Linked DNA regions of Homo sapiens: region 2 is linked to region 1. Evidence: fine-mapped expression QTL. Tissue or cell type: whole blood. Region 1 holds a variant in brackets; the other region holds the start of a gene. All regions are shown on one strand. Distances are between the middles of the regions.

Region 1 (5,195 bases):
TCCACTGGCTGCACAGCCTGTCTGCCTGCCAGCAGTCACATTTGGGACGCTTCCCAGGGCATCACCAATAGCCACTGGTGCTTCCCTCAGGAGAAGCCAAGAGAAAATTCCCCCACCAGTTATCACTTATAAATACTGCAGTTCAACCCAGCATACAGGTACCACTGTGCACTAAGCCTGGACACGACAGTGGACAGCATATGTATTGATGTACATGCTGTCCTCAAGGACCCTACAGGCTAGACAGGAGAGATGTGTCCACTGATCAGCAGCCAGAAAGCACTGAAACAAGAAACCAGCAACGTGCTGAGGCACACATACCAGGGAGAGCAGACTGCAGCACTAGACAGGCCAAGAACTCTGAAGCCAAGACAGCCTGGAATCAAATCCCAGATGTGCCACCCTCCAGTCGGGAGACCATGGCCAAGTTATGTAACCTCACCATCCTCAGTTTCCTCATCTGTAAGGTGGGGGATTACGTACCACCTGGCAGGGTTGTCATAGATTGGAGATGGGGGGTGTAGAACATTCAGCCCTGGGTCTGCTACTTAGTGGGCACCACACAATGGCAGTAGGCAGCATTATTTCTAAAGGAAACAACTAAGACCGATACTGGGAGCAGCGTGAACAGTTGAGGCAGAAGCTTGGTGTGGAGAGTGAATGGGGGCAATGGCTCAGGCCTGTGGTGTGCAGGGAGTGGGGTGGGGTCTAGGGCATGGGCTTCAGGCTGGGGGATCTGGAGTGCCAGGATGGTAGGCAGGACCCCACATGCTCTCCAGGTCAGAGGGTAGCCTGGAATCCTCTCCAAGTCTGCCCATACAAGCTGATGTCCCTCCTGCAGAGCTAGGACTCTGCTCCATACTCCTTCACCTCCTATACTGTGGCTTACATATGCCATGTGGATCCCACTCCCTGGGATCCCTGATCTGCCCCAAACATCCCCAGGAGGACAGGATGGAATTATTCCAGTAGCCTCCAGCTAGCCTTCCTCCTGCCAGGCTCCATTCCCACTTTCTGCTGCCTTCCTCCTCCATTACCCAGAACCCAGAGGGCTCCTCCCACAGTGCAGAGGGCTCCCAACAACAAACACCAGACCTGCCCCAGCCTCTTCAACCTCTGCTCTGTCACTCCCAATCTCCTGTTTATTCTGGAGCACTCAGCAATGCTCCCTTCTCTGGGCCTCCTCCTTCTCAAAACTCATCTTCTGCAGGAAGCTTTCTATTCAAGTCCATGGATGCCACTGAGCCTGACAGAGGACTGGGGCTGCATGGACAGAGCTTGCAGGAAATAGGCACACCAGACCCGGCCTGGTGTACAGGGGAGAGCACTCTATGGGGTCAGGGAACAGGAAAGGTGCCCCTAGAAAGGCACCAAGCACCACGAGACACTCGCTGGTGAAGAATGCATACCTCCAAACGCTGCTGCGTCAGAGGTCCTTCATTCACACAGCAACAACCCCCTCATCATGGAACACTCTCTCTCTCACAGGTTATCCTGGCAGAGGCTTGCTCACTTACATGGCCTTCCTAATGGCAAACACCTATTACACATATAGGACAGATGGCTGGAGTGGGTGGGGTCAGGGCCCAACCACCTGACCTGAGCACCATAGTCCATGTTCCAGACTGCCCAGGCCCAGTGGCTCTATGCCAAGGCCTGTGTTCACATGTGTCTGCCAATGCGGGTTCATTCTATGGCCATTCCCTATTCTAGTTCCTTCTCCCCAGGCAATCTCAACCTCTAGGGATAGGAAGAACAGGCCTTCACGTCTCTTGCATTTTCCCCAGGTGTGAGCAGGTGTGCTTGTGGGTGGGCAGTGGCCAGGAGAACAACAATAACAAAAAATGCCTGTCCTAGTGTCCTGGGATAGAGCTATAAAAGCATGCCAGGTTGCTGGCAGGAGCTTGAAGGAGGTGCTGCCTCTGCTTACCAGGAGACCGTCTAGCTGTGAAGTGAGTGGCTGGAAGGAGTGATTGCTGGGTCCCATTCTAGCGATGTCTGTCCTCACCTCCATGCAGAAAAGTAAAGAGAAACCAGGGCTCTGCCAGGGAGTGGCAGAGGCTGGTACTTCTCAGACTCCTGATGTTTATGCACATCCCCTGGAATCTCATTAAAATGTAGATTCTGATTCAACAGGTTTTGTGGGGCCTGAGGGTCTGCTGGATGTTCTCCAGCTGAGAGAGCCTGATCTCATGATAAGGACCCCTCCCCCAGGAAATGTCCCAGACGGATCCCTCCCAACCCAGAGCTCTCCACAGCGGGTGATAGAATCTGATTTTTGGGGTCAGGCAAGCTCCTGGTCACAGATAAGGGCCACCAGAACCTGCCAGGATTTGCCTCTGGAGCTGGAAACTGATGCTTTTCAGCTCCAGGTAAAGGGTAGTGGGAGCAAAGGCTGAGCAGTGCCTCTCCAACACACACACACACACACACACACACACACAC[ACTCT/T]CTCTCTCTCTCACTCACTCACTCATTCACTCACTCATTCACTGTGAGCTGCAGAGTCCTGCCCTGTGATTCCAGCAGAAGAACAACAGAATCTAAGGACCCAGTCTTTCGGCTACAGTAGGAGCGGGCAGGAACCCACTCCCCACCCCATTCGTCATTTTCCAACCCTCAGGTAATCAATAGCCAGTTAGCAAGACTGTGCAAGCTCCAATTAGATTAGCTGCCAGGTCAACGACTGCCAGAATCAGGAACTCAGGCAAACCTACAGGCTTGTAGCAGAGTCCTTCCTCTGTCAGCGTATCTTGGGAAATCTCTCTCCCTCACTCCTGGGCTAAGTTCAATGCCCCCTCTGCCAGCTGGACCCTCAACAGCCTGGCACCATGCAGTGCTCCCAGAACACAATCAGCTTCTCAAGCTTCAGACATTCCCAGATCTATCTTAAAATTTCAGTTTCACCGGGTGCGGTGGCTCACGCCTGTAATCCTAGCACTTTGGGAAGCTGAGGCGGGCAGATCACCTGAGGTCAGGAGTTTAAGATCAGCCTAGCCAATATGCCGAAACCCCGTCTCTACTAAAATACAAAAATTAGCCGGGCATGGTGGCACACTCCTGTAATCCCAGCTACTCGGGAGGCTGAGGCAGGAGAATCGCTGGAACCTGGGAGGTGGAGGCTGCAGTGAGCTGAGATCGTGCCACTGCACTCCAGCCTGGGCGACAGAGCGAGACTCCATCTCAAAGAAAAAAAAAAAATTCAGACCGGACACAGTGGCTCACGCCTGTAATCCCACCACTTTGGGAGGCTGAGGCAGGCGGATCACCTGAGGTTGGGAGTTCGAGACCAGCCTGACCAACAAGAAGAAACCCCATCTCTACTAAAAATACAAAATTAGATATCTGGGCATGGTGGCGCATGCCTGTAATCCCAGCTACTTGGGAGGCCGAGGCAGGAGAATCGCTTGAACCCAGGAGGCGTAGGTTGCAGTGAGCCAAGATCGCCCCATTGCACTCCAGCCTGGGCAACAAGAGCGAAACTCCATCTCAAAAAAAAAAAAATTCAGTTTCAGCTACAACTTCACGTGGTTCTCCAGAGCCTGCTATTAGGACAACTGAACTTCCCAAGTACCCTGCAGGGTCCTCTGACGGACCACAGCTATATATGAACCTGTCCCTCAGGCCATTGCCCCCAGGCCTGCCTCCTGCTTTCTCCCTCCTATACTTCTGTAGCTATCATTCCCTTTTTCTTGGTCTGACTCCTCACAGCCATGCTCCAAATTCCAGGTTCCCTCTTCTCTAAGACTGTCCCTCACCACCCCAGCCCACTTTTAAGGCACCTGCCTAAAAAACCTGCTCCTAAAGCATGTTCTTATAGGTCAGTGTTATCAACACCACCTGGTGTTTATTAGAAATGCAGACCCTCAGGCCCTACCTAGACCTATTAAATCAGAATCTACATTTTAACGAGATTCCAGGGGATGTGTATGAACATCAGGAGTCTGAGAAGTACCAGCCTCTGCCACTCCCTGGCAGGGCTCTGGTTTCTCTTTACTTTTCTGCATGGAGGTGAGGACAGACATCGCTAGAATGGGACCCAGCAATCACTCCTTCCAGCCACTCACTTCACAGCTAGACGGTCTCCTGGTAAGCAGAGGCAGCACCTCCTTCAAGCTCCTGCCAGCAACCTGGCATGCTTTTATAGCTCTATCCCAGAACACCAGGACAGGCTTTTTAAAAAAAAAAATTTTTTTTAAGACAGGGTCTTGGCCAGGTGTGGTGGCTCACATCTGTAACCCCAGCACTTTGGGAGGCCAAGGCAGGCAGATCACCTGAGGTCAGGAGTTTGAGACCAGCCTGGCCAACATGGTGAAACCCCATCTCTACTAAAAATACAAAACATTAGCCGTGCGTGGTGGCGCATGCCTGTAGTCCCAGCTACTCGGGAGGCTGAGGCGGGAGAATCACTTGAACCTGAGAGGCGGAAGCTGCAGTGAGCCAAGATCGCACCCCTGCACTCCAGCCTGGGTAACAGGGCAAGACTCCGTCTTCACACAGGCTGGAGTGCAGTGGCACATTCACAGCTCCCTGCAACCTTGAACTCCTGGGCTCAAGTGATCCTCCCACCTCAGCCTCCTGAGTAGCTGGGACTACAGGCATGTGCCCACACCTGGCTAAAAAAAATTTTTTTTAAGAGATGGGGTCTCGCTATGTTGCCCAGGCTGGTCTCAAACTCCTGGCTTCAGGTGATCCTCCTGCCTCAGCCTCCCAAACTGTGCTGAGATTACAAATGTGAGCCACCATGCCCAGCCTGGGAGAGGATTTCTTTTTTTTTGTTTCTTTTTTTGAGACAGAGTTTCGCTCTTGTTGCCCAGGCTGAAGTGCAATGGCACAATCTCGGCTCACTGCAACCTCTGCCTCATGGGTTCAAGTGATTCTCCTGCCTCAGCCTCCCGAGTAGCTGGGATTACAGGCATGTGCCACCACGCCCGGCTAATTTTGCATTTTTAGTAGAGACGGGGTTTCACCATGTTGGTCAGGCTGGTCTCGAACTCCCAACCTCAGGTGATCTGCCCACCTTGGCCTCCCAAAGTGCTGGGATTACAGGCGTGAGCCACCGTACCCGGCTGGGAGAGGATTTCTTATTGCCAGTTTATAGCCACAGATTGTGCCAACCTGATGGCCAATCCATATCTGAGAACCAAGTAAACATCAAGGCATTGCCCCAACGTTACTGAGGGGATCATCATCAGGA
Region 2 (5,128 bases), 980 kb after region 1:
TGAAATGATAACTGCAGCCTAGCTGAGCTCAGAGCACCCCCACCCCTGCCCCAGGGCCTGGAGTTCCCTGGACCCCTTGGAGAGCTTACATGGCCGGATGGGTGGTTCCATCCCTCACACCACTCCAAGATTCAGGGGGCTCAGGGGGTGCAAATCGCAGCGGACCTAGAGGTGGCTTGGCAAATGGAATTCCCAGGAAGGTTTGGACCCCGGCATTGGCGCCCTTCACATGGACAAGACTCCCCAGCACCTGCCCCGTGTGTGTGGTCCGGATGGGACTGGCTGAGTCCTGGCCTGTGGGCAGAGAGACAGACATCACGGTTGGGTTTGACCAATCGACTGCCCTCCCAACTGTTGGTATTGCTGCTTCCTTGCCATCCTCATCTTAGCTCAAGGGACTCTGATCTGTAAACATGGGCTTTACAAACTTCCTGCCTGTAACACTCCCTTCCCGCTCTGGCTTCCTGGGCCTGTCTCCATCCCACCAGGCTGAGGCTCCTTGGGGCCAGGCATCATCATTCAGCCCTAGGACCTTCAAACAAAGGGTCACATGCCCTTGATGGGACTAGAGTGTCCTTCAACTGTGTGCCAGGTCATGTGACAGTAGGATGATGGTGGGAATTGGGCAGGCAAGTTTCTTGTCCTCAGGGATGTCATGTCCAAAGTGGCAAGAAATCATGTAAAGAAAGCATCATCCAAACCATGAGTGATGTTGGTGAAAAGAGGTGCAAGAGAAAAGTATGGCTGTGGCTGGGATATAAAAAGCACAGTGACTGGCCTGGGGACCATAGTGGGACTCTGTCTCTGCAAAAAAATCAGGAAATAAATTGGCGGGGTGTGGTGGTGCATGCCTGTAGTCCCAGCTGTAGAAAAGCCTGGCTCCAGAAAGTGGGTGAGTTTATGACTGTTTAGATGAAAATCAAGGACAAGTGCACACATCTATTCTTGTGTAAACTGCTGGGCACTGTGTGTACTGCGGTGTCAACAAGCAGTTTCCAGTGTGGGCCATGGGGACTTTGATGGCCCCTGAGGAGAAGCCAGGACTGGTTGGGTAAAAAGAGGATGGCACACATCACCTGTACCCTCCTATGGCTTGTCAATTATTTTTTCTGAATGTGGGTCCAACCCAAAATTTTGTATACATATATATTTGTCAGACAAGGTCGCCATCTGTTGCCCAGGCTGGAATGCAGTAATATGATAACAGCTCACTGCAGCCTCCACCTCCTGGGCTTGAGATCCTCCCGCCACAGCCTCCTGAGTAGCTTGGAGTACAGCTGTCTGCCACCATGCTTGACTTTTTTTTTTTTTTTTTTTGGTAGAGACAAGTCTTGTTGCCCAAGCTGGTCTCTAACTCCTAGCCTCAAGTGATCCTCCCATCTCTGCCTCTCAAAGTGCTGGGATAACAGGTGTGAGCCACTGTGCCTGGCCCAAAATATTTTAAAAGGTAGCCATCTGTGAGGCCAGGCAGATCTTCCTGCTGGGCTCCTGGTGAACTCTAGAATGTGGTCAAGGGCAGGCACGGGAGGAAGCCCTGCAGCAGTGCACCATGGGGCGGGGGGAGTATGGACTCCACCTGCGCAAATTAAATTGGGGAAGGGTTGGAAGAGACAGATCATACACTTAGGAGAGTTTCGGGTGAGAGGACCAAAGGCCGAAACACTCCCCCAGCTTCTGATAAGGGCCTGGAGAAGCCTGGCAGGCACACAGAGCCTTCACCTTTGCCCTGGAAGCCAAGTTGTGCCCTTGCCCAGGATGAGGTAAATGGCATGAGGGACACCACGAGCTCTTTGGTTCTTGTTTCTGGAGACAGATTTTTGCTTTTTCACCCAGGCTGGAGTGCAGTAGTGGGATGAAGGCTCACTGCAGCCTCAACCTCCCCTACTAAAGTGATCTCCCACCTCAGCCTCCCAAGTAGCTGGGACTACAGGTCACAGACCACCACAGCCCACTAATTTCTTTCAATTTTTTGTACACTCCGAGTCTCACTATGTTGTCCAGGCTGGCCTCCAACTCCTGGGCACAAGCGATACTCTCCCTTGGCCTTCTAAAGTGGTGGGATTAAAGGAGTGAGCCAATCGCACCCAGCCACTGTGGCCTCTTAGATCTGCTTTAGGATTTGGCGCCTGGGGGCTTCTGTTCCCCAAGGACCACTATCCTTGTCTGAGGCCCCTTTGGAGGGCTCAGGGCATCCCCCCTGGCCAAGGACGCCACACACTGAGAGCCAGATGCTGCCAGAAGCTATTACTGTTATTACCGGCCGGCAGCACCCGCTACAGCCACAATCATAAGAGGGAAATGGACTGAATCCCCACACCCCAATCCCTCACCCACTCCGACCCCAGGCTGCCTACCCGGCCTGGCATGTCCCGGCGCTCCTGGGGCCCCTGTACTCCGCTGGTTCCTTGCCGTGGTGTCCCCCAGCCCGACCCTTTCTGTGCTTCTAGGAGCCCACCTTGGGCGGCGGGGAGGCGTTGCGTGGGGCTCACGAGTTCCACGCTGTCATCTCCACCAGCTCCTACCTCCCAGGCGCCTGCCCTCCCGCACTGTCAGGTTCTGCCTCCGCAGCATTTGGCAGATCTGAGCCCGGTCCCTGTCGCCCCTCCGAGGGAGCCTCACCCTGGCCCCGGACAAGAAGCAGCAGAAGCCCACAGGCCACCGCGCTCAGCCGCGCACGAAGTCTGTGCAGCCGCATGGTCGGCTCGCTGGTCTCGGTTCGCTGCCGGCGGACACGCTGCTGTTCACCCAGAGGCTGCCCCGGGTCTGTCCAGCAGTGGATCAGTGCCTTGCCCAGCCTTGGAGTTTGGACTGGGCAGGGAGTCAGCGGGGTGCGCTGGCTTGGGCCGGGAAAGGTGGGTGTGGTAGGAGAGCGGGACTGAGCAGTCATAGGTGGGTGGGGATCTAGTGGTAGGCAGGCCCGGGCACGGCCACTTTCCTTTGCCCGGGCTCCTTTGGCATCCTCGGAAGGGGCTGTGCCATTCCTGCAGCCCTTCCGCGATCCAGGGAATCCTCTCTTCAAACCTGTCCTTGTCCACAGGCCCGATGAGCGCGCTGGGGGATCGATAGGAGGGGGCAATAAACTAGAATTGGAGACCCCAGGAGGGCTTCTCTGAGGATGTGCACGTTCAGGATCCCCCAGATGGAGAAATGGGAAGGAACTTGATCGGGGTGAAGGAACCGCTTGAGCAAAGGCAGGAAGGAGTGTCGGCGCCCTTCATTCTGGAAGTTCCTCCTTGCTTTCAGGACTCAGTTTCCTGGGTTCCCCTTCACGGCCCCTCATCTCCTTACAGTCCAGGGTCTGAGGGTCTCCGCGGTCCCCTCCCTACTCAGTCACGCCATTCTTTTGAAACGTACACGTGACCGCGGCACTTCTTAAGGAGCGCCCCCCTTTTCCTCGGTGGCTTTCAGTTTCCTCACCTCCCGCGGAGACCACGGCCATGGTCATTTATCCACTTGACAAACATTTCACGAGCCCCTGCCGGTCCAAGCTGTGGGGACGCCGTACTCCCGGGCCTATGGTGCAGCAGGGGAGGCAGGCGCGTCACCGGGAGGTCCCGAGACACTAGGATCCCTGCCAGGCCAGAGGCGACCAACCGTCCTGGATACGGGAGCTCCCGGCCAGCCTGACTTCCAGGAGGAAGCGGTGTGGGGATTACCTCCGACCGCCTTTAGTGCCCCCTGAGACCTGGTTCTGGCCTCTACGTTTCAGCCCGCTACTGGCTCGCACGACCCAGCGCCGCCGTGGTCCCTTCTCAGCGCCTTCTGCTCCAGCGACCATCATGTTCCCGGGTCCGAGCAGCCAGGGCCGCGGTCACCGCTTCTCTCGCACCTCAGGCCGAGAACCCACAACGCGGCGTGTCCCTCGCGCGACTCCGTCGCCACGCCACGCCCCCTTCCCGTTCTCCGGAAGTGCGCGGGTTGGAGCGGAAGCGCACGCCTGCTAGGATCAGCGGTGGTGGTTCCGCGATGGTAGGCGGCGGCGGGGTCGGCGGCGGCCTCCTGGAGAATGCCAACCCCCTCATCTACCAGCGCTCTGGGGAGCGGCCTGTGACGGCAGGCGAGGAGGACGAGCAGGTTCCCGACAGCATCGACGCACGCGAGATCTTCGATATCCGCCGCTGCTGGGCGCGGGCGGGTTCCGGGGGCTTGCGGTGGGGGGAGCAGTGATATCGAGCAGCTGGTGGAGCCGCATCCCAGCAGGGCGTTCCTGGCAGAGGGTTCTAAGTGGGCAAGGGCGCAGAGTCCCTTTTCCTTCACTTCCCACATCTGATTCGCTCCATCAATGACCCGGAGCATCCACTGACGCTAGAGGAGTTGAACGTAGTAGAGCAGGTGCGGGTTCAGGTGAGTCACTTCCGAGGGGAGCGAGTTGTTCCAGAGAGTCAGAAAGGTTTCTGTGCAGCAGGAGCTGGCGTGCTCTATGCTCACGAACACCGAAGGGTATCTTTGGGGAGGGAGATTGTTGTGCCTATTTTATGGGTGTTGAAACTGAGGCCCATAGAAGTTGGATGATTTGCCCAAAACAACAAACTAAGAAGAGGGACCTTGGGCTGAGGGTGGTTGACTCTTGACATCTCTCCTCCACAACCAGGTTAGCGACCCCGAGAGTACAGTGGCTGTGGCTTTCACACCAACCATTCCGCACTGCAGCATGGCCACCCTTATTGGTCTGTCCATCAAGGTCAAGCTTCTGCGCTCCCTTCCTCAGCGTTTCAAGGTCAGTTGGAGCTGAGCCCCGGGAGTGAGACCAGGCATTGAGGGTCTACTGCTGAGGATGGGGACTGGGAGAGCATGAACATGGATAGGACATCAGAGTGGGGCCTGGAAGGATCCCCATTAGCAGAGAGGAAACTGGGAGGAAGCTTTCCAAGTCGATGTGACAAGAATAAAGATCTGAGCTGGAAAGTGGAGAAAAGTATTGAAGAGTGTGGCAGGAAGGGCAGTAGGGAGCGGCAGATGGGTTTGGACCAGGGGTGGGGCACAGGCAGGCCTTTAAATCAACAGTAGTGGGCCAGTTCTTTGGATAGAATTGGAATAGCTAGGGCCGGGCGCGGTGGCTCACGCCTGTAATCCCAGCACTTTGGGAGGCTGAGGCGGGTGGATCATCTGAGGTTAGGAGTTGGAGACC

What was found. PIP is the estimated chance that this variant, and not a neighbour inherited with it, causes the effect.
Region 2: CES2 starts here. The variant in region 1 is fine-mapped to the expression of CES2 in whole blood (INTERVAL, PIP 0.93).

What each region holds. Positions count from the first base shown.
Region 1 is chr16:67,912,461-67,917,655 of GRCh38, reverse strand. All of the region lies in intron 2 of PSKH1 (protein serine kinase H1), which reads right to left. Among named protein-coding and RNA genes, the nearest start is that of CTRL, 17 kb to the left of the region's middle. RefSeq lists an enhancer at 1,417-1,940. The variant ACTCT/T (reference allele first, on the strand shown) is at 2,446.
Region 2 is chr16:66,933,203-66,938,330 of GRCh38, reverse strand. It overlaps CES2 (carboxylesterase 2), which reads right to left and starts at 2,815. Exons shown (of 12, transcript NM_001365405.1): 1 at 2,620-2,815; 2 at 90-294. The coding sequence starts at 2,695. It overlaps CIAO2B (cytosolic iron-sulfur assembly component 2B), which reads left to right and starts at 3,929. Exons shown (of 5, transcript NM_016062.4): 1 at 3,929-4,108; 2 at 4,265-4,344; 3 at 4,592-4,717. The coding sequence starts at 3,967. RefSeq lists enhancers at 2,593-3,205, 4,044-4,243, 4,274-4,323.